Homo sapiens: one gene and its partners. The protein of the gene in region 3 purifies or fractionates together with the protein of the main gene of each other region. This does not show direct contact. Each region holds a gene or a part of one and is shown on either strand. Other genes may lie near its edges.

Region 1 (7,027 bases), on a different chromosome or scaffold from region 3:
CCTGGTTCAAGTGATTCTCCTGCCTCAGCCTCCTGAGTAGCTGGGATTACAGGCACATGCCACCATGCCCAGCTAATTTTTGTATTTGTAGTAGAGACAGGGTTTCACCATGTTGGCCAGGATGGTCTCGATCTCTTTACCTCGTGATCTACCCACCTTGGCCTCCCGAAGTGCTGGGATTACAGACATGAGCCACTGCGCCCGGCCGACCATCTGTTTTTAACAGTGAAGAAAAGGGTACAGAGACCGAACGTCCTGTGGCCCTTGCTGCCTTGGTCCTGCCTGGAGGGGGCCCGACGCCCAAGTGGTATGTGTGCACCCGAGCTGTGGCCTGGGCTCTGTCTTTTAGGAGGGGCCTGAGGCCTGAGTGGTGTCTGTGCACACGAGCCGTGGTCCAGGCTGCATCTCTCAGCACAACTGTCTTCAAGCGTCTTCTCCACCTTGACCCTGCCACCTAGCCCACGGGCTCATGCGTGGACAGGTGCGTGGCCTCCTTAACCCAGCCCGCAGACCTCCCCGCTGCTGTGGTACTTCTACTCAGCCCTGCCCCGCGGCCTGGGCTGCAGCCTGCTCTTCATCCCCCTGGGCTTGGTAGACAGAAGGACGCACGCGCCGACGGTGCTGGCACTGGGCTTCATGGCACTCTACTCCCTCCTGCCACACAAGGAGCTACGCTTCATCATCTATGCCTTCCCCATGCTCAACATCACGGCTGCCAGAGGCTGCTCCTACCTGTGAGTGCTCTTTTTGTGACATGCATTTTTATAGTTTCATTGGAAACAGGTTCACTGATTTACTGTTGGGGGGATGTATGTGTGTGTTTAATTTTTGAAACAGGGTCTTGCTCTGTCGCCCAGCTGGAGTGGGGCTTACTGCACCCCTCAACTCCTAGGGGGTTAAGCCATCCTCCTGCCTCCTCCTCTGGAAGTGCTGGGATTGCAGGTGTGAGCCACCAGGGCTGTTTTTTAAGATAAACACAGGGTGTGTTGAACTAGGCGCTTATGTCAAAGGAGGGTGACCCCAGTCCTCTCTCCTCCCTGAGGGCTGCATGGGATGGGACCGGCCTGGCATTGTGCTGACAGAGGGCTTTGCTCAGGTGGTCTCTGTCTTGGGTTAATTTGGTGACTGGTCCACATATGGTGATGCACCAGCGGTCCCAGTCTCTGTCATGGGAGAGTGACACTCACATAGGTAGCAGCGGCAGAGGGCAGGGGCAGCCAGGCCTGGGAGGCTCTGAGGGCGACAGGTCAGGTAGAGGAAGGGCGTTCGTGGCCATCCTGACAGGGCCTCGGGCTTGAGGGCGTTTGTCAAGGCGGGTCATCTGGCTGGAAGAGGGGGATGGTGAGGGAGGTGCCTATGGCTGGGTGCAGAGGGCCCAGCGTGGCCCAGGCTCAAGGTCCTGTGGAGGGCAGGGGGCTTCCTGCGGGGAGGGACTGCAGGCAGCAGGTGATGGAGGTGGAGCTGGGGGCCTGGCAGGGCCTGGGGAGGGCACTGCCTGGGCTGAGGGTGGGGTGGTCTGAGCGCGGCTGCCACTCAGTGTTGCAAGCCTCAGGGAGCCAGGAGAGTCCATCACTGCCGGGCCCTGTGGGTGCTGGGGAAGGACCCGGGGCTCAGGCCCAGGAGAGTCCATCACTGCTGGCCCTGTGGGTGCTGCGGAAGAACCCAGGGCTGAGGCTGGCCAGCTCTGTGCCCGTTCAGAGTTTGCTGCCTTGATGGGAACAGGAGGCCAACTCAGGCCACGCTGGGCATTGAGGGGCGGCAGGGCTACAGGCCAGGAGGGCCGCGGCCTGGGGCATTGAGAGGTGCCCACTCTGGCTGGAGAGGAAGCCCCACAATGCGGTCCCTGATCTCAGGCAGCGGTCAGGTGCTTTCCGGTGCCACTTGTTACAGGGGAGGGGATGGTGCCCCCCAGCTCCGACTGCCCCGCACTGCCCTCGGGCCTGGGAGCTCCTCTGGCTGCCGTGACTGTTCCTCGCTGGGGGTTCCTCCGGCTGCCGTGGCCGTGCCTGGGTTGGGGGCTCCTCTGGCTGCTGTAGCCGCGCCTCAGTGGGGGCTCCTGGGAGCTCTGCCTCTGCTTTTCTGTGCCTTTGGCTCCCTCTCGTCTCAGGGGTCGGCTCAGGGCTGGAGGAGGAGCAGACCCCAGCCAGAGTCATGGAAAAGAGGGTAGGAAAGACGGGGAGAGCGGCGCGGATGGATTGTATTCGGTGACAGGCTTTTCCAGCAGGGAAGAAGATCCAGTGGGAACTGGACCCAGCTCTGTGTCTTTGAGGCCTGGTGTGCTGGGCGTGAGGGGCTGCTCCATGCAAGGGCCCCTGCTGTGCCAGTCGGCCTTATCCGGAGGAGGACAAACTTGGGGAGTCCAAATGAGGGGGTGCAGGGTAGAGCAAGGCCCCCTCCGAAGTCAGGTCCTCAGCCCGGCCACCCTGGGAGCAAGAGCAGGCCGTTTCCCACGGTGTCAGGGCCCAGGGCCTTGAGACAGTCCTGGGGGTGGAAGGTTTCTGATTGCGAGCTTTCCACAGTGACTGCCCACTCCAGGTTTGGGCGGGAACAAAGGACGAACGCCCTGGCAGTGCTGAGCTCTTTGGGGCAGGCACTTAGGAGGCTGCGGTCATCCTAGGTGGGGCCTCGAGCTCAGAAACCGCACCAGAGATTGTTCAAGGGTGCACTAGTCTGCTCTCGCACTGATGTAAAGAAACACCTGAGACTGGATAATTTATAAAGAGGAGGCTTCATTGGCTCGCGGTTCCGCAGGCTGTACGGGAAGCGTGGTACTGGTGTCTGCTCAGCTTCCAGGCTGGCCTGGGAAAACTTTCCATTATGGCGGAAGGCGAGAGGGAAGCGGGCACGCTTTTATGTGGCCAAAGCAGGACGAAGAGGGACGGGGGAGGTGTCACCCATTTTCAAACAAGCAGACCTCTCGAGAACTCACTCGGTATGAGGAGAACAGCATGGAGGGGATGGCGCTAATCCATTCCTGAGGGCTCCACCTCCATGACCCAGTCACCTCCCACCAGGCCCCACCTCCAGCATTGGGGATCACAGTTGGACATGAGATTTGGTGGGGACGCAGATCCAAACCATAGCAAAGGGCAGGGCCTGTGGAGAAGAGGGCTCCGAGGAGCCTGGTGGGTTTGGAAGAGAGTGAGTCTTGATCGGGGGTTCAGGGCGTTTAGACCAGGGTTGGCAAGCTTTTCCGTTAAGGACCAGCTAATAAAGAGCCTCATCTTCGTGGGCCACACTGTCTGTGGCAGCTGCTAACTCTGCCGTAGGATCCTGAGATTGGCATAGTCGATTGTGAGAGAACCGGCGGCACCCTGTCCCAGAGAGTTCACTCAGACCTGCTGGGAGTGGGCTTGGCCGCGCGGGTGGCACTCTGACCTACACAGTCACTTGGGATTGTTTGAAAATATATTTTTAGGCTGGGCGCAGTGGCTCATGCCTGTAATCTCAGCACTTTGGGAGGCTGAGGCGGGCAGATCACGAGGTCAGGAGTTCAAGACTAGCCTGGCCAACATAGTGAAAGCCTGTCTCTACTAAAAATACAGAAATTAGATGGGCATGGTGGCGTGCACCTGTAGTCCCAGCTACTTGGGAGGCTGAGGCAGGAGAATCACTTGAACCCAGGAGGCGGAGGTTGCAGTGAGCCGAGATCATGGCACTGCACTCCAGCCTGGGTGACACAGCGAGACTCTGTCTCAAAAATATATATATATTTTAAAATCTCATCTAAATTTTAAATTGGCATCTTGGGTAGAATTTCACAGACAATTCTTGAGGCAGTATCTTAACCACTTTTACGGGTTACTGACTCTGTTTTATTTGGTGGTGAACTCTTTGTTATGACTTGGTGAAGTTGAACAGCAGGTTATGCTCCTAGTATGTTTTGTAGGTAGATTAATTTTATTGTCATTACGTTCTGCCTATGATGTGTAACCATTCTTTTTTCAGGCTGAATAACTATAAAAAGTCTTGGCTGTACAAAGCGGGGTCTCTGCTTGTGATCGGACACCTCGTGGTGAATGCCGCCTACTCAGCCACGGCCCTGTATGTGTCCCATTTCAACTACCCAGGTGGCGTCGCAATGCAGAGGCTGCACCAGCTGGTGCCCCCCCAGACAGGTGGGTGCTGGGGGCACTGCCTGGGGACTGCTGTGGCTCCGACTGCAGGGCTGGGCTCTGACGGCAGGCCTGGTTTTCCTAGACGTCCTTCTGCACATTGACGTGGCAGCCGCCCAGACAGGTGTGTCTCGGTTTCTCCAAGTCAACAGCGCCTGGAGGTAGGATCCACACACAGCACGGCCCTCCCAGAGGCCATGTGAGGGCCCCTTGGGGGCGGGGGACAGGGCGATGTGGGGGCCCTGGGCAGGACCACCAGCTCTCATCCCACAGGTACGACAAGAGGGAGGATGTGCAGCCGGGGACAGGCATGCTGGCATACACACACATCCTCATGGAGGCGGCCCCTGGGCTCCTGGCCCTCTACAGGGACACACACCGGGTCCTGGCCAGCGTCGTGGGGACCACAGGTGTGAGTCTGAACCTGACCCAACTGCCCCCCTTCAACGTCCACCTGCAGACAAAGCTGGTGCTTCTGGAGAGGCTCCCCCGGCCGTCCTGAGGGGGACCAGGCAGCCCTCAGCAGCCACAGGCCTTCCAGGAGCTGTTATCACTACCAGTTTCTGGCACAATTCCAGCACAATTATGACAATTCAGAGAAGCAAGTCAAAGGACTGGGCACCTGCCTCTGACAGACACCAGACCAGGTCCAGGGCCTCCTCCACAGCCTCAGCTGGGGCTCTCAGCACCAAAGAACGAGGGGCCCAGGTCTTGTTGGCACCCCGGGAGCCACTGCCCAGGGTGATGGTGGCCAGCTCAGGGCTTCCTGCGGGTGACTGTCGCCCAGACCAGGTGCCATTCATGACTAATCAGGAGCAGCGGGCTCACCCAGGCACCTGTCTGCCAGGAGGCCACGTGTGTCCTGCCCACCCAGGGGGAGCTGTATTTTGGCAGCACCCCACGCTTGCTGCCCGAGGGCCTCTTGGGGCACCTAAGACAGCACCCCCTCTCAGGGGAGACCATGGTGGCCCCGGCCGCACCCCCCCACCCTGGTGCCACCACTGCAACTTTTGTATTCACAGGCATCCCATCTCCATCACAGATAAAATCTTAGGAGATAAACACATTCAAAAAGGAATGAGATAAAAAGAATAAGGCAATAAATGTTGATTGGAACCTCTCAAGATTACAGAAAATAATGAGAATGAAATTTTAAAAATGTTTCCTATGTGATAGCTTATCACAGGTGACTATTCCAGGTGTTATGGTAAAGGGACAGCTTGGTGCTGTCAGCCTCACTGACCATGCATTTATAAAGCACCAAAGTGCGTGTGATGCTGCTGGGCACTGGAGATGGGACCAGGTGCTGCTGCACACGTATGCACACACCATGCATACATGCACACACACCACACACGCATGCACACAGTGCACACGTGCACACACCATGCATACACACCACACACCGTGCACACGTGCACACACCATGCATACACACCACACACAGTGCACACGTGCACATTACCATGCATCCACACACAGTGCACACGTGCACACACTATGCATACACAGTGCACACGTGCACACACCATGCATACACACCACACACCGTGCACACGTGCACACACCATGCATACACACCACACACAGTGCACACGTGCACATTACCATGCATCCACACACAGTGCACACGTGCACACACTATGCATACACAGTGCACACGTGCACACACCATGCATACACACCACACAGTGCACACGTGCACATTACCATGCATACACAGTGCACACGTGCACACACCATGCATACACACCACACACAGTGCACACGTGCACATTACCATGCATACACACAGTGCACGCGTGCACATTACCATGCATACACAGTGCACATGTGCACACACCATGCATACACACCACACAGTGCACACGTGCACACACCATGCATACACAGTGCACACGTGCACACACCATGCATACACAGTGCACATGTGCACACACCATGCATACACACCACACACCGTGCACACGTGCACACACCATGCATACACACCACACACAGTGCACACGTGCACATTACCATGCATCCACACACAGTGCACACGTGCACACTATGCATACAGTGCACACATGCACACACCATGCATACACAGTGCACACGTGCACACACCATGCATACACACCACACAGTGCACATGTGCACACACCATGCATACACACCACACACAGTGCACACGTGCACACACCATGCATACACACCACACACAGTGCACACGTGCACATTACCATGCATACACAGTGCACACGTGCACACACCATGCATGCACACCACACACAGTGCACACGTGTACGTTACCATGCATACACACAGTGCACGCGTGCACATTACCATGCATACACAGTGCACACGTGCACACACCATGCATACACACCACACACAGTGCACACGTGCACATTACCGTGCATACACACAGTGCATGCGTGCACATTACCATGCATACACACAGTGCACACGTGCACACACCATGAATACACACCACACACAGTGCACACGTGCACACACCATGCATACACACAGTGCACACGTGCACACACCATGCATACATACCACACACAGTGCACACGTGCACATTACCATGCATACACCACGCATGCACAATGCACGTGCACACCATGCATACACACCACACATGCATCCACACACAATGCACAGATGCGCACACCATGCATACACACCATACATGCATGATCACACGTGCACACACCATACATACCCACCACGCATGCACACACACAATGCACAGGTGCACACACCATGCATACACACCACACAATGCAATCGTGCACACACAATGCACACGTGCACACACCATGCATACACACCACACAATGCAATCATGCACACAATGCACACGTGCACACACCATGCATACATACCACACATGCACACACGTGTGCATAAAGACATGATTT
Region 2 (7,027 bases), on a different chromosome or scaffold from region 3:
TCAGTCAAAGACTGAAATTATCAAATGCCCATGAAAGAAAGAAATTTTTCTCTTTGTATTTCCTTCTAATAACAAAAAGAAAATATCTTTACAACAAGCTTTCACTTTTTAAAGAATTAAAATTATTACAGAAATCTCACTAGTCTTCAAAAATAGTAAATGTTATATAAATACAATTTTCTTATAGTTGAATTTTTCAGCTAGAACCTGCATTTAAAAAATTTCCTTTGGATTATTCCATTTAGCACTTCAAGTTTCTATTCTGCAACTCTAATAATAACTGGCTCAGATTTGTTAGGTTATATCAATCACATCGTTCAAAATTTGCTACTGTGTGTTAAATGTGTACAATAATAAAGTAAATGGGAGGAATGCATCAAATTTCAAAAGCAACATAATAATGAAAAATTCAAAAATAATATTACAAAAAGATAAAGTACAACAGGGATTCTCTTTCACCGTTACATTAGTGAAACATCTTTTTTACACCTTTAAAGCTAATGTCATAACTTTCATTTTTTAACTTATCAAGATGATGAAGTTTTTAGAAGCCCTACCTTTATTTTCAATCAAAAACTAAAATGACTGAATTACTTTTATTAATATACACATCAAGTTACTGTAACGGTGACTTCATGTAGTTTCCCCCTTAAAGATGGCACTTGCAGGTACAAAGATGCAGAGATGTCTACAGCCTTCAGATGTTTACTTGAAAAGATTCTTCAACAGCAGTTTGGTATTGGGTTTCTTCATCTAGCTGAAGATTCTAAAAACAATAACATTCATGTCAACAGGAAAAACATATTCAACTACTCTAATACTTTGCCCAAAACATTAGACATCTTGATACACATTACACATCTTGACACACATTACACACACTCAGGACAGTTATGTAAAACATATATAACAGTATCTTTTAAGATACAAGATTTGAATACCTGAACTTTAATAAGACATTAAGTTCAGTTGTAACTGTTCAAGAATAACAAACAAACAGAGAGGATCATCACAGAACAAAATTTGAGTGTTATAATGCCTTTATAAGTCATTCATAAAAAATATGGTTAACTGGAAAGCTGGGTAAGCATGCGCCTGTAGTTGCAACTATTCAGGAGGCTGAGGCAGAAGACAGTTTGAGCCTATGAGTTTGAGGTCAGCCTGGGCAACACAGGGAGACTGTCACTTTAAAAAATAAAAATAAAAAATGAAAAATAAAACTGAAGTTAATCATAACACACAATCATAAATGTGTCATCTCTAGAAAATAATGCCAAATATCTGACAGTAAACTGATTTTAAGAAAACAAGCATTTATTGAATTATGAGTTGAGTAAGAAATTTTTTGGGGGGCAGTTTGGCTCTGTCACTCAGGCTGGAGTGCAGTGGCACAATCTTGGCTCACTGCAACCTCCACCTCCTGGGCTCAAGCAATTCTTGTGCCTCAGCCTGCCAAGTAGCTAGGATTACAGATACGTACCACCACACCCAGCTAATTTTTGTATCTTTAGTAGAGACAGGGTTTTGCCATGTTGGCCAGGCTGGTCTTGAACTGCTGACCTCAGGTGATCCACCCGCCTCGGCCTCCCACAGTACTGGGATGACAGGCATGAGCCATCATGCCCAGATGAGTAATAAATTCTTAACCATAACATGAAGCCTACAGCTTATTCAATCGTTATAAAACTACTCCTTAATTTAAAAAATTATATTTGCTATCAATTTTATGCCCTATGCATTTCGCTTTAAAATCAAGGCCTCTATTTGACAATCTGAAATAATTAGATCACCTACTTTTCTTTTTTGAGACGGAGTCTCGCACTGTCACCCAGGCTGGAGTGCAGTGGCGTGATCTTCACGCACTGCAAGCTCTGCCTCCCGGGTTCATCCCATTCTCCTGCCTCAGCCTCCCGAGTAGCTGGGACTATAGGCACCTGCCAACACACCCGGCTAACTTTTTGTATTTTTAGTAAAGACGGGGTTTCACCGTGTTAGCCAGGATGGTCTCAATCTCCTGACCTTGTGATCCACCCACCTCGGCCTCCCAAAGTGCTGGGATTACAGGTGTGAGCCACCAAGCCCTGCCTAGATTACCTACTTTTCTATGGCAAGATAAAACAACTTGACAATTAGATCAAAAGTGGTTCACAAATTTTTGTATTTCCAAATACATTACATAGCAATCTTTCTTACAATGAGAATTTAATAATAATCTAGAATTACTTTATAAAATTGCTAAAGCAATAAAGCGCACCTAAATTTTACATATATTTGAATTTTTATTTTGAAATTGGCTAAATAATGCAAATTCTACAAAATTTAAAAACCATTTAACAAGAATGATGTAATTTCAACACTGGAAGGCAGACAAAAATGTATATTTTGTTCATGTCACTCTGCTTACCTAAACTGGAAAACAAATAGCCATTCTTTGTCAGGACTAATCTTAAATAAAGTTTTGATTAAACTGAAGTTGAATAAAATGCAATTTAATAATTAATAAAACAGGTTTTCACCTAATTAAAAAAGTATATCACACATTTAGAAGTACAAATTAATCCATTTTGCTTTATGAATTCATTTTTACATTATATAACTTCTCTTACACTCTTAGTCTCTTTGTAACCTGGCTTTGCCTGATAACTAAGCTCCCTCATTTTTAAAAACGTTGTGTCTTACATGCTAGATTTGAGAAATCTAAGATTTCTAGCATAATACAAGCAACTTATACTACATGAGAAATACATCCTCCATATGTTGTACCAATTTTACTTCTCTTGTAGGTACAATTTTCCCTTAAATCTTGACAGAGTTTTCATGTAAATCATCATTTTGTTAATCTGGGTGCTTGCTGTTACTCTTATTAATTCTCTCTCTAGTACAGGAGGTGGAGAGTAAACTCAATTTTTACCTTACCATTTCTACAAGCTAAAGTTCACCAGTATTATTAAAAACCTAAGAACTTGCTCTAAATCCATCCAGTAAGATACAACAGCTTGCCACAAAATTTAAGTCGATTACAAAAAAGTTATTTTAACTTTAATATTTAAACAGTACTTTCTTAATCTTGAAGAATTCACTTACCACAAATTCTCCATAATCAAATTGATGTCTCTGATTTAGATGACTAACGAAATTTCTGGTAATCTGGCTAGGATCTCCCCAAGGAAGAGACACACAAATAGGACATGTCTATAAGAAACAGATTGTTTTAAACAAAAAATAATAAAAACAATGAAATATTATACAATTGACAGTATTAAAATAACACAGGGATATGTTACCAAAAATATCTACGTGAGAAGCATTTTTAAAGGCCAAGTTCCATGACTAGATCATTTCCCAATCAATTACCTTAGATAAATGACATTAATCTAACACAGTGAGAAATCTTAGACATTCTATTCCTTAAATCTCTTATTACACAAATGTTTCAACAGAAAAACCACATCTAGCTTTTAATAATACCAACTGTAATGACAGTTATCACTAACTGGCTGCCTGCAACATATCCAATATATTATCTCATTTGATCCATACAATAACCATATAATTATTATTAGTTTTATTTCATTTGTAAGTAAAATAAAAATGAAGTAAACTGGAAAATTTACTTTAAATTGTATCCTTAGTTTTTCTTTTCTTTTCTTAAAACTAGAGACACAGTCTCACTGTTGTCCAGGCTGGGTCTCAAATTCCTGAGCTCAAGCAATCCTCCCGCCTTGGCCTCCCAAAGTGCTGGGATTAAAGGCATGTGCCACCACACCCAGCCATATCCTTACGTTTAAATGAAGTACATCTTAAAAACTGAATGGATAAATAACTGAAATAACACACAAAAAACCTTCAGTAATTAAACTCTAGCCAAAGTTTATGATATATCGAATATTATGCAGAAATGAATAAAAATTTGGTAATCCAATATAAAACTAAGTAAAATCTTAAATATGAGCGAGATTTCCTGGAACATCTTTGGCACTGTATTTGTCTATTTAAGCATAACTGAACCCATTCTAATAAGCAAAGTAGGTAGTACACCTTCTTAGGTGGTATGTGAGAGCTTAAGGTCATCCTCAATGGTTATTGAAGCATATTCTTTTTATTTTCTTTATTTTTAAATAGACAGGGTCTCACTATGTTGCCCAGGCTAGTCTCGAACTCCTGGGCTCAAGCAATCCTCCCCTCTCGGCCTCCCAAAGTGCTAAATTACAGGCATGAGCCACCGTGCCCGGTCCTGAAGCACATTCTTTCACAACTTTTCCTAGCATACTCACTAAAACAGCTTAGAAATATCTACAGTTCTTATTGATAACATTTTCCTTCCTATTCTCCTTTCTGAAGACAATTATTTATATATCAAAATGTTCAGCTGAAAGGGAAATCTCTCTCCCAGCTCAGTTTCTCCTGTTCCATTCACAGCTGAAATAACTTACCTATGAAACACTTCTAGGATCATTATATGTTGGAATCCTGAATTCTGCTCTATCTCCCTCATTATCAAAAAGCTCTCACCATTTTCTTACATACCCTCAAAATGTCAAAAAATATGTAGGCATCAAATACAAAGTCTAAGTCTTTTCCTTCCTTGCTTTATGCATTCACATACTATATGCTGCAAGAAAACAATAAAAATACCTACTGACTTTATTCTTACTTACAGGTATTTTCACCTACAGCAATCTACCTGACTAGATCTACTTGTCTGCCATCTACAGAGCAAGTAACTGAGGCCTCAATAGACAGGTTGTGCTACTGCGCAGGAATGAGTTCCCGGTTCATCTTTCATTACTTCACTCTTCTCCAGACTGTGCTATATTACCTCACACTATGCATCTCCCTTTTTATAATGAGAGTTACTGCAATTTTAAATATCTCATTTTGCTTCACAGTCATCAATCCTTTGTTGACAAAAATCTACCTTACTGATAATGCCCCAACCAAATATAAATCAACTACTTTCTCTTGCATACATGAAGTGAAATAAATAGAACAGCATGTTTTATTCTAAGCAGAAGACTGTCTCAAACGTATGTACTTACCACAGGAACTATCTGAAATAGGTGATTACTGTTACAGTGATCCAGTAAACGCTGTCTGGTAAAATTTGATTCTTGACACAGGGGACACTTAAAAGTAGGATGACCAGAAGAACTATAAAACAATTTTAAGTGAAACATACTTAATTCAGAATAACACAAAAATAACGCTCTCCTATTTTTTGAGGAATCACTATACATTTTTTAAAAAAGTTATAATTATTAGACTATTCAAAGATTCTCTCATTTTGAACATATGTATTCAGGAAATGATGCATTACAGAGGTTCCCAATCTCAGTTTACAGTACTCTTAGTGTCCTCAATAAATTTTTTCATGGCACCTCTAGGCCAAAACAAAAACAAAAACAAAAACCTAGCTGACTCCATATATTATGTAGTTAGGTCCAAACTTAATTGTAGTTGTTTTCTGATGCCAATAGCTGTCACTGTATGTCCCTTGAAAATTTTTAATATTCTGTAGTATTCCACATTTTGCAAACCTTTTATCTAGGAACTTAAAACTTCTAAAAGACTTCCATCAATATCGTATCTCTAATAAATACCAGGCCCTAGGAATCCAACATCCAAAATTCAAAGGAAAAGAAAAAACAAAAGCACTGATCATGAGAATGAAATACTCGAAAACATTCTGAGGATCAAGCATCACTGAGTTTTAATACTTCTGAATTTCAGGAAGGGACAGTTCAACACAGACAACTTTACCTGAATCGTGTGTGGAAGAAACCTGACCACAGTGAAAGAGAATAACTAAACTCTTCTAACCTAATGTGATTCTTAAAAGCAGTAACTGCATTTTCTATTTCTAAACTGCTAACTTCAAACACTATGCCTAATGATGTAACTGATTTTTTTTTTTTTTTTAAGTTTAATTTATGGCCAGGCGCAGTGGCTCATGCCTGTAATCCCAGCACTTTGGGAGGCCAAGGCAGGTGGATTATCTGAGGTCAGGAGTTCGAGACCAGCCTGGCCAACATGGTGAAACCCTGTTTCTACTAAAAATACAAAAATTAGCCGGGCGTGGTGGCAGGCACCTGTAATACCAGATACTTGGGAGGCTGAGGCAGGAGAATCACTTGAACCTGAGAGGCGCAGGTTGCAGTGAGCCAAGATCGCACCACTGCACTCCAGCCTGGGAAAACAAAGTGAGACTCCGTCTCAAAAAAAAAAAAAAAAAGTTTAATTTAAAAAGCTATTTGATAAGTGATAAATATAATATTACTTGCTAAAGTGGCAGGATTTTTCAAAAGCTTACCTTGTATTCTCTTGGTAAGTTTCTGTGTTATCAGATGTGGATGTTTCACTCCTATTGCTTAAGAAGCACAGGGGAAAAAGTTAATACCTCAAAGTAATGAAAACACACTAAAGGTTCATTATCTTGAACCATTAATGAAGAAGACTAGTCTGAATTTGTTTTAAAAGTCTGAACTTCAATACACCTTTTTCCTATTGGGTCCTTGAAAAAACAAAATTTGAACTTCAAATGGTTCTGAACTATGAAATAATTACAATATTAATTACTTTTAAATAAATTGACTGCTTACTAGATTCTTATTTATGTTCTTTAAAATTAACTTATGCACAGTTACAGAAGTATAGAGAATTTTGCAGAATTACCTTAAATCCCATTCCTCTACCTTTACCTAGACTAGTAAGGTTTTAAATGCTACGGTAGACTCAAGAATTTGTGAACTTTTTTACTTCAAACTAGGACATGGTATAAGGTTATGCCCTCCAAAGTGCAGTAATTTAAGAAAATATGTAAATGTTCATTATGTTTGTATTTTATTTCCAGAAAGGAAAGAAACCAGGCTTCACTAACATTTAATATACAGAACAACTTAACATCTCCACTTTTACCATATGCCAGAGAGTCATGTGTCACATGGAATATCAGAGGAATCCTGAGGGAAGAGTAAGTATTCCATACAGGGACCGTCACCTGTGTGCTACAGAATTTGATCAATGTGGT
Region 3 (7,027 bases):
ACATGACGAGCCACCTTCAGAATTTGAAATACGAGATTTCCCTCACACAGGAGGAAGTCTGGCATTGAGAGCAAACGTTTCCAACGGCGAAGTGACTTTTCCACTCAAGTCAGGCGACTGCCGGTGTCTACAAGCACTCAGTCGCCCAGGAGTGAACAGAAGCAGCTACCTGGGGGGCCTGGGGGTCCACCAGCTCCTGCAGACTGGCCAGGTGACAGCAGTGCAGCTGGCGGCCGCTCCTGTACTCCCAGAGCCTCAGGGTGCCGTCCTGCACAAACCAAACACACAGGTTAGCACATGGTTGTGGGGCTTCCGTCAGGTAGGGTGACAGAGAGGACAGCTGCGTGTGGTCGGGGTTCCACTCCGTGACAGCCATGCCACCCACCCTCAGGAATTAAAGGCTCTCTGCTCTGACTGTGTAAATCGCTCATGCAAATCATCAAGGACAACGGTGGGGAACGGAAGGTGACCGATTCCCTGTTTCTCGAGTGCCAATATGCCCAGGCAGATGACAAAGCCAATGAGGCAGATCCTAGCAAAATAAGCCAAGGCCGCTAGATGGCCAGGTTGTCATCCGCCAGGAGGCCAGACCACATCTGCTGTGCCCGGGCCGGGCATAGACACGGGCATGCACACAGGTCTGCGCAGACACTTCAGCAATCATGCATTCCCACGGGGAGACACGTGTGGGCTCATGAGCTCGTGGCCACTGCTCCACTTCACTAAGAATGACAGGAAGGACATGGCCATCAGCAACCGTCCCACGACAACTGGTACAACCCTTCAGGAAGCCGACACAGGAACCAAGAGGCTCCACGCTCTAAAACCATCATCAATGGAAAAAAGCGTTTCTCTTTTTTTTCTTGGTTTTATCTGTTGTTATTTTTTTGTTGTTTAATTGAAATGGGGTCTATTCCACACTGCCCACTGCACTGCAGTGGCTATTCACAGGCTTGCTCCTGGCTCACTGCAGCCTCTGACTCCCAGGCCCAGGCAATCCTCCCGCCTCAGCCTCCGAGTAGCTGGGACTACAGGCATGAGCCACCATACCTGGCTTAAAAAAAATTCATTACAGCACTAATTCAGTGGAGAGAAATAAATCAATACTCATTAAATCTAATGAGAGAGTGTCTGTGCACTATTTGTAAGTATTTTTAAATGACTAAATGAAAAAGATGAAAAGTAAATACCCCAAACAGCTAACAGTAGATGCATATCCTCTGGGTGCCGAGGTAAGAGTGGATGTATGAATGCACACACACACGCATGCACATACACACGCACACACACACACCTTTCTACAAATGTGGCAGATAAACATGGAGACCAACACACACATCTACAGGCATTTCACTCACCCCCAAACCTCTCTACGAAGACAAGAAAAAGATGTTTAATAACCATGAACCCACTAAGACAAAGACAACAGGCAAGAAGAGAAGGCAGCCGCGGAGAGACAGCAAGGAAACCTGGGGGCTGGAGGCCAGGGAACAAATGCACCAGCCACAGAGAAGCCCGAGAGGTGCCAGGACCTGCCAAAGACCAAACCGGGCCAGGCAGCCTGAAGACCAAGGTGGTGAGGGGAGCTGTCAAATGTCTTTACAAAGAGAAACGGGACCTCCCTGATGCATCCTCAGCCCCAAACTCCAGGCCAGCAGAAGGCTCTGGGGAAACGGAGCCGAGGGGCCCCTGTCTCGGGGATGCCAAATACTCACTGAGAAGAGAGTCACCTAGCCCCTTCGCACTCACCTCCCAGAGCCCCAGGGGACAGACCTGGGCAAGAGTGAAGGCCGGGACACTGACCACCCAGAAGAGACCGACTGACCCACACGTTCTACGGAGTCCACAGGCAAGGGGCTGCTGCCCACAGACACCTGCTCTGAAGCCCCTCGGGCCCCACCCTGGGTGCACACACCCAGCCTCTGAGGCCGGCTGGTGCTGACTCCCATCACACACAGGCAGATGGCATCGCCAGACATCCGAGGAAAACCTCCAATGAGAAAGGCAGACAACACACTCCAGAGAAGGCAATCAAACACAAGGCCAGGAAGAAATTGAAGAAAGAAAAGTCCACGCTCATCTCAGTGAGATAAGAGACACGTGCACTATCCGAGAATGGGTGGCTGCAAAAAAGAACGTGCCGAGGGCAAGAAAGAACTAAAGATTCAAAATAATCCTAATAAAACTCAAGTCTCCACAGAAGGCTGGAAAGTAAAGTTGAGGCAATCTCCCAAGAAGTAAGACTATTCCTAAAGGAGTAGAAATACGAGATTGAACAGGAAAGAAAAAAAAACAGAGAATTATGGCCCAGCATGGTGGCTCTCGCCTATAATCCCAGTGGGCGGAAGTGGGTGGATCGCTTGAGGTCAAAAGTTTGAGACCAGCCTGGCCAAGCTGGCAAAACCCCATCACTACAAAAGTATAAAAAATTAGCGGGGCATGGTGGTGTGTGCCTGTAATACTAGCTACTCGGGAGGCCTGAGGTGGGAGGATTGCTTGAGCCCGGGAGGCAGAGGCTGCAGTGAACCGAGATCACGCCACTGCACTCCAGACTGGGAGACAGAGCAAGACTCTGTCTCAAAAAAAATAAGAATCAGAGCATTAAAGTGGTTCAACTAACACAAGCTTTAGAAAAAGTGAGCAAGAGGCAGGGGTAGAGAACAGAAGGTAATCATGTAAGAAAATGCCCCAGGTCGGAGGACACTGAAAATCACTGGCTGTGTGGCCAACTCCCCTCTGGGGCCCACCAAGTCACCTCAGTGGCTTTCACATCGCACACTGGAGCAGAGAAAGTCCTCCAGGCAGAAGGAGAGCCCAGCTGTCACCCCACGGACCCACGGCAGACAGCTGCAGGTTTCTACAGGAAGCGCGCGGGAAAACCCACAGGAGCAACCAGCTGGAGAGCACACTGTGCAAGGCCTCCCAAGCTCCGAGGGAAACCGTTTCAACCAGGACTTCTACGCCAAACTAACAACCAGGCCTCAAAGGAGATTAAAGGTATTTCCAGAAAAGCAAAGTCAGAAAACACTGACCCTCCTCGCGCCTTTTGGCAGCTACCAGATGACGTGTTCCACTCAAACAAAGCAGTAAGCCATGAGGGACAGATGGGGCCTGGGGAGGCTTCTCTGCCCGTGGAAGATTTTCCTCATATTATGAAAAAGACTGGAAGGTGCACAACAAACCGCTGACGAAGCCTGACCCTGACCCTGACCCTCTGGAGATTATGGCCACACTTTTCTTCTTCTCTCAGGTCGCGTGGCTGTGTGTTAATTTGAAGAGCAGGAACAGGAGGCTGTGAATGAAGCCCAATCAGAGAAGAAACATAGAAGCGGCCAGAAGGTCCATCAGCCATCCTGCCACACCACACAAAGGACCAACACAGACAACACAGGGAAGGACAGCGAAGAGGAAGGTGGTGGTGTGCGGGCAACAATTCCGCAAGAGGACAGAATCAGACCCTGTGAGGAATCCAAGGCCCTCACTTTGGCAAAATCACTAACAATCCTTCTAACACATTCCTTAGAGAAAACACGTCTCTCATCACTAAACTGTAAGGCTTCCAGGACCCAATTGCTGGGACACAGAAGCTGTACCCAACAAGCAAAAATGCACTGTGGTAACCCGGGTGCGGGCGCTCGAGCCTGTGGTCCCAGCTACTTGGGAGGCCAAGGAGGCAGATCGCTTGAGCCCAGGAGTTTGAAACCAGCCTGAAAAATGTAGCAACACCCCATCTTAAAAAAAAAGAAAGAAAGAAAAAAAGGAAAGAAAAGGAAAAAAAATGCAGCCCGTAATGGGATGGACTGAGACCCCTCCAAGAGTCAGAGAAGCCCCCGTCTACTGTTTCTACCTGAGATCCTGATCCCCGATACCATCGTAGATGCAGCAGCCGCCCTCAGAAGGGAGCCTTCCACACACCCGTGCTAGTTCATCCCACAGGCGAACACACACGCACCTACGCACACCCCACACGCAGTCCTGAGTGAGCGGCCGCAGGCGGGGAGCGAGCCGCAGGCAGCTCTAAGATCTAGTGGACAGCCACAGCCAGCCAGGGGCCAGCGATCCACAGGGGCCAGGTCCAGGAGGCGCCCACCCCACCCTCCCTGCAGGCTCAAGAATCCAGAGGTGAGTGACGCTGGGCAGAACACTTACCCCAGAGGAGGACAGAAGCAGCCCGGGCTGAGTTGGCACCACGGAGATACGGCTCACAAACCTGTGAGGGCGAGAGAGAGCGGCAGAGTCAGCGAGCCCAGCGCCCGCAGGGACCGGGAGGCCTGGGGAGGCCGCCTGTTCATCTAAGGAAGAGAAGCCTCTGCCCTAAACCCCCTGATCCAATAAAAACAGCCAACATGGGAAGTAGCTGTTAACCCTAACCTGGTTAGGGTTAACCAGGTGGAGGCCCCTGGACGCAGTCGGGGAGGTGAGTGAGGTCATTCCTGGGTCCCCAACAGCACAGCAACCTCTAACCCAGGCCGCTCCTCAGCCATGCCTGCCAGAGACCCAAGCGCCTCTGTGCCCCTCTGCAGCCCCCTCTGCAGCAGCTCTGCTCAGCGGCACCTCTACAGGCCCCCCAGCACCCACCCTGGCCCAAGGCACCTGCACTGTGATGAAAGGAGCCTTGGGGGAGACTCAAAGACACGGGGGAGACTCAAAGACACAGCACACAGGGAGGAGGGTGGAGGGAGGAGGGCAGCCAAGCCCACAGGTTCCTATCAGGGTCCTGACGGCCCCTCAGCAACAACTCTGAGTGACCTGGCCAGACAGCTGTCTCTGCTGAGCCCGGCCCAGTCCTCCTGTGAGGGGTTGGCCTGCAAGCACAGGACTCAAAGTCACAGGGACCCTCCCATCAGAACAGCCATGAAGAATAACCCAAGCAGCCCAGCTCGCCTGGAAACCCATCTTGGCTCGGGCACCTACAAGGGTGACAAGGCCCCTTTTCTTCCCACTCTAACACAGTGGCCTCAAGCAATCCCTCATGCACGGGGTTCCCGGGGACCCTGGAATGGGGTGGCCCGTGAGCCTCACTCCATCTCCACCAGTCATGGCCTCTGCTACCTTGGGCTAGCCATCGCGTGAGCCGGGCCCGGTCCCGCAGCCACCGCCCTGCACGGCACCACAGCACCAACAGCAGCCCACAGCCCAGGACAGATAGGGCACAGGACGCCCCGTGCAGAGGGCACGAGTGGCCTCACAGTTCTCAACGGTTTGAAAGGCCGGGAAACCAGTTTCCAGGGGTCTGAAACAAAATCTCAAAACATAATTCGTCCAATCACTGCAGTTATCTACTGAGCACCTACTCATGCCAGGCACCACGCTGAGGGCTGCACACACCAACAGGCCCAACAGACCCACAGAACCACTCAGACGCAGCGGGAGACGGCCAGTGAACCAACTGATACTGCAATGTCAGCAAAGGGCACAGAACAGCACATCCAGCAGAAACACACCTCCAGCCACACACAGGGGCCACGGGGCTTTGTTTTCAATTTGCCAGCCACTATGTTGAAAAGTAAACGGGCAGGCCGGGCACGGTGGCTCACGCCTGTAATCCCAGCACTGTGGGAGGCCGAGGCGGGCGAATCATGAGGTCAGGAGATCAAGACCAGCCTGGCCAACATAGTGAACCCTCGTCTCTACTAAAAATACAAAAAAAAATTAGCCGGGCGTGGTGGCAGGGGCCTGTAGTCCCAGCTACTTGGGAGGCTGAGGCAGGAGAATCGCTTGAACCTGGAAGGCAGAGGTTGCAGTGAGCCAAGATCACGCCACTGCACTCCAGCCTGGGCGACACAGCTAAGAAAGAGAAAAGAAAGGAAGGGAGGGGAAGGGTGGGGTGGGGAGGGGGGAAGGAAGGGAGGGAGGGAGGGAGCAGTTGAAGTTAATTTTAATACTATGTTTTTACTCAATACTTCTAAGTGATGAAGCATTTCCCTAGAAGGGTGAGAAGCGTGTTCCCGTCAGCAGAAACCTCCCTCACGTGCCTGGCGAGGCAAGGGAGCTGCAGAGACCCCAGCGAGAGATGGTGAAGGGGAGGGGCCGGGGGGCTGCAGGCCAGAGAACTCCAGAGCTGGATCACTAGCGAACTAAATGCAAGTCAGAAGAAGCTATCCTGAGGCACACACCAGTGACTGGCCTTCTTAAACAGGAAATGTTTGGATCAAAACCAGGAAAACACAGGCAACCTCGGCACTGAATTTCCTCCCTCCAATTTCTTCCACTGCCTCAAATAATATATTTTAAAACATTTCAGCCAATTACACTAAGCGTTTTTCCTTTGTGTAAATTCTAATGAGCTTTTTGTGTGAGACAGGAGCGGGCATTCAGAAACACCTCCACATGGGTCCTGGCAGAGTGTGCTGCCACGAGAGACGCCGCCACCTGGCTGCAGAGGCCGCTTAATTCTTGGACAGCTGAAATCACTAAAGTTCATCCTCGCCCCCAACACCCCCACCACCCACCAGCGAACAACTCCCGGGCATGGTGCAGGGGTCTCCACACTGAGACAGGGGTTTCCCGGAAACAAGCCCTTCCTGTTCGGTCAGGCCCAATGCCAAGTTACTGGCACAGACTCCGGGTAACAGCGCAGAGTGAACCCCACCCTTTCAGGGCTTCTGCAGGCAGCACCACGGCGCCTGCAGTGACCAAACACCAAGCACGGGGGCTGCTGTCACCCGCGTGGGGCCTCGCCAGCTACAACGGCACCTGCTGAGCCGCAAGCTGACGCTGTTTTCAAACAGACCTTCTTTCTGCTGGAGGGGCAGGAAGGGGCACTCACTCTGTGTGCCCCAAGCAGAAGGACTCGATGCTATGGGGCGCCGCGGCCCAGCTGACTCGGATCTTCTCGTCCCGGTCGGCAGTGAGGATGAAGCGGTCATCAGGACTCACAGCCTGCATCACCAGGGGCCAGAAAAGAAAAAGCCGCTCACCTGAGTCTTCCCGAATCAAGTCCCTCATGGAAGAAGGCAGGGAAGCTGCAGCCTGGCCGCCAAGAGGATGAGGCCTTCGAGGACAGACCAGCGTGGCTCCTCCCCTC

What was found. The genes of interacting proteins can lie anywhere in the genome.
Region 1: the proteins of WDR4 (region 3) and ALG12 purify together in Homo sapiens (affinity purification with mass spectrometry; 2 studies listed by BioGRID and IntAct, with this or other methods). This does not show direct contact.
Region 2: the proteins of WDR4 (region 3) and RNF138 purify together in Homo sapiens (affinity purification with mass spectrometry; 2 studies listed by BioGRID and IntAct, with this or other methods). This does not show direct contact.

The regions. Positions count from the first base shown.
Region 1 is NC_000022.11:49,901,428-49,908,454, reverse strand, and holds part of ALG12 (dol-P-Man:Man(7)GlcNAc(2)-PP-Dol alpha-1,6-mannosyltransferase), read left to right. Parts: intron 1-510; coding exon 511-734; intron 735-3,948; coding exon 3,949-4,118; intron 4,119-4,200; coding exon 4,201-4,276; intron 4,277-4,388; coding exon 4,389-4,617; 3' UTR 4,618-7,027. UniProt on the Homo sapiens protein: Mannosyltransferase that operates in the biosynthetic pathway of dolichol-linked oligosaccharides, the glycan precursors employed in protein asparagine (N)-glycosylation.
Region 2 is NC_000018.10:32,122,858-32,129,884, reverse strand, and holds part of RNF138 (E3 ubiquitin-protein ligase RNF138), read right to left. Parts: intron 6,368-7,027; coding exon 6,311-6,367; intron 5,152-6,310; coding exon 5,040-5,151; intron 3,193-5,039; coding exon 3,085-3,192; intron 767-3,084; coding exon 698-766; 3' UTR 1-697. UniProt on the Homo sapiens protein: E3 ubiquitin-protein ligase involved in DNA damage response by promoting DNA resection and homologous recombination.
Region 3 is NC_000021.9:42,855,513-42,862,539, forward strand, and holds part of WDR4 (tRNA (guanine-N(7)-)-methyltransferase non-catalytic subunit WDR4), read right to left. Parts: intron 6,883-7,027; coding exon 6,770-6,882; intron 4,211-6,769; coding exon 4,150-4,210; intron 269-4,149; coding exon 170-268; intron 1-169. UniProt on the Homo sapiens protein: Non-catalytic component of the METTL1-WDR4 methyltransferase complex required for the formation of N(7)-methylguanine in a subset of RNA species, such as tRNAs, mRNAs and microRNAs (miRNAs).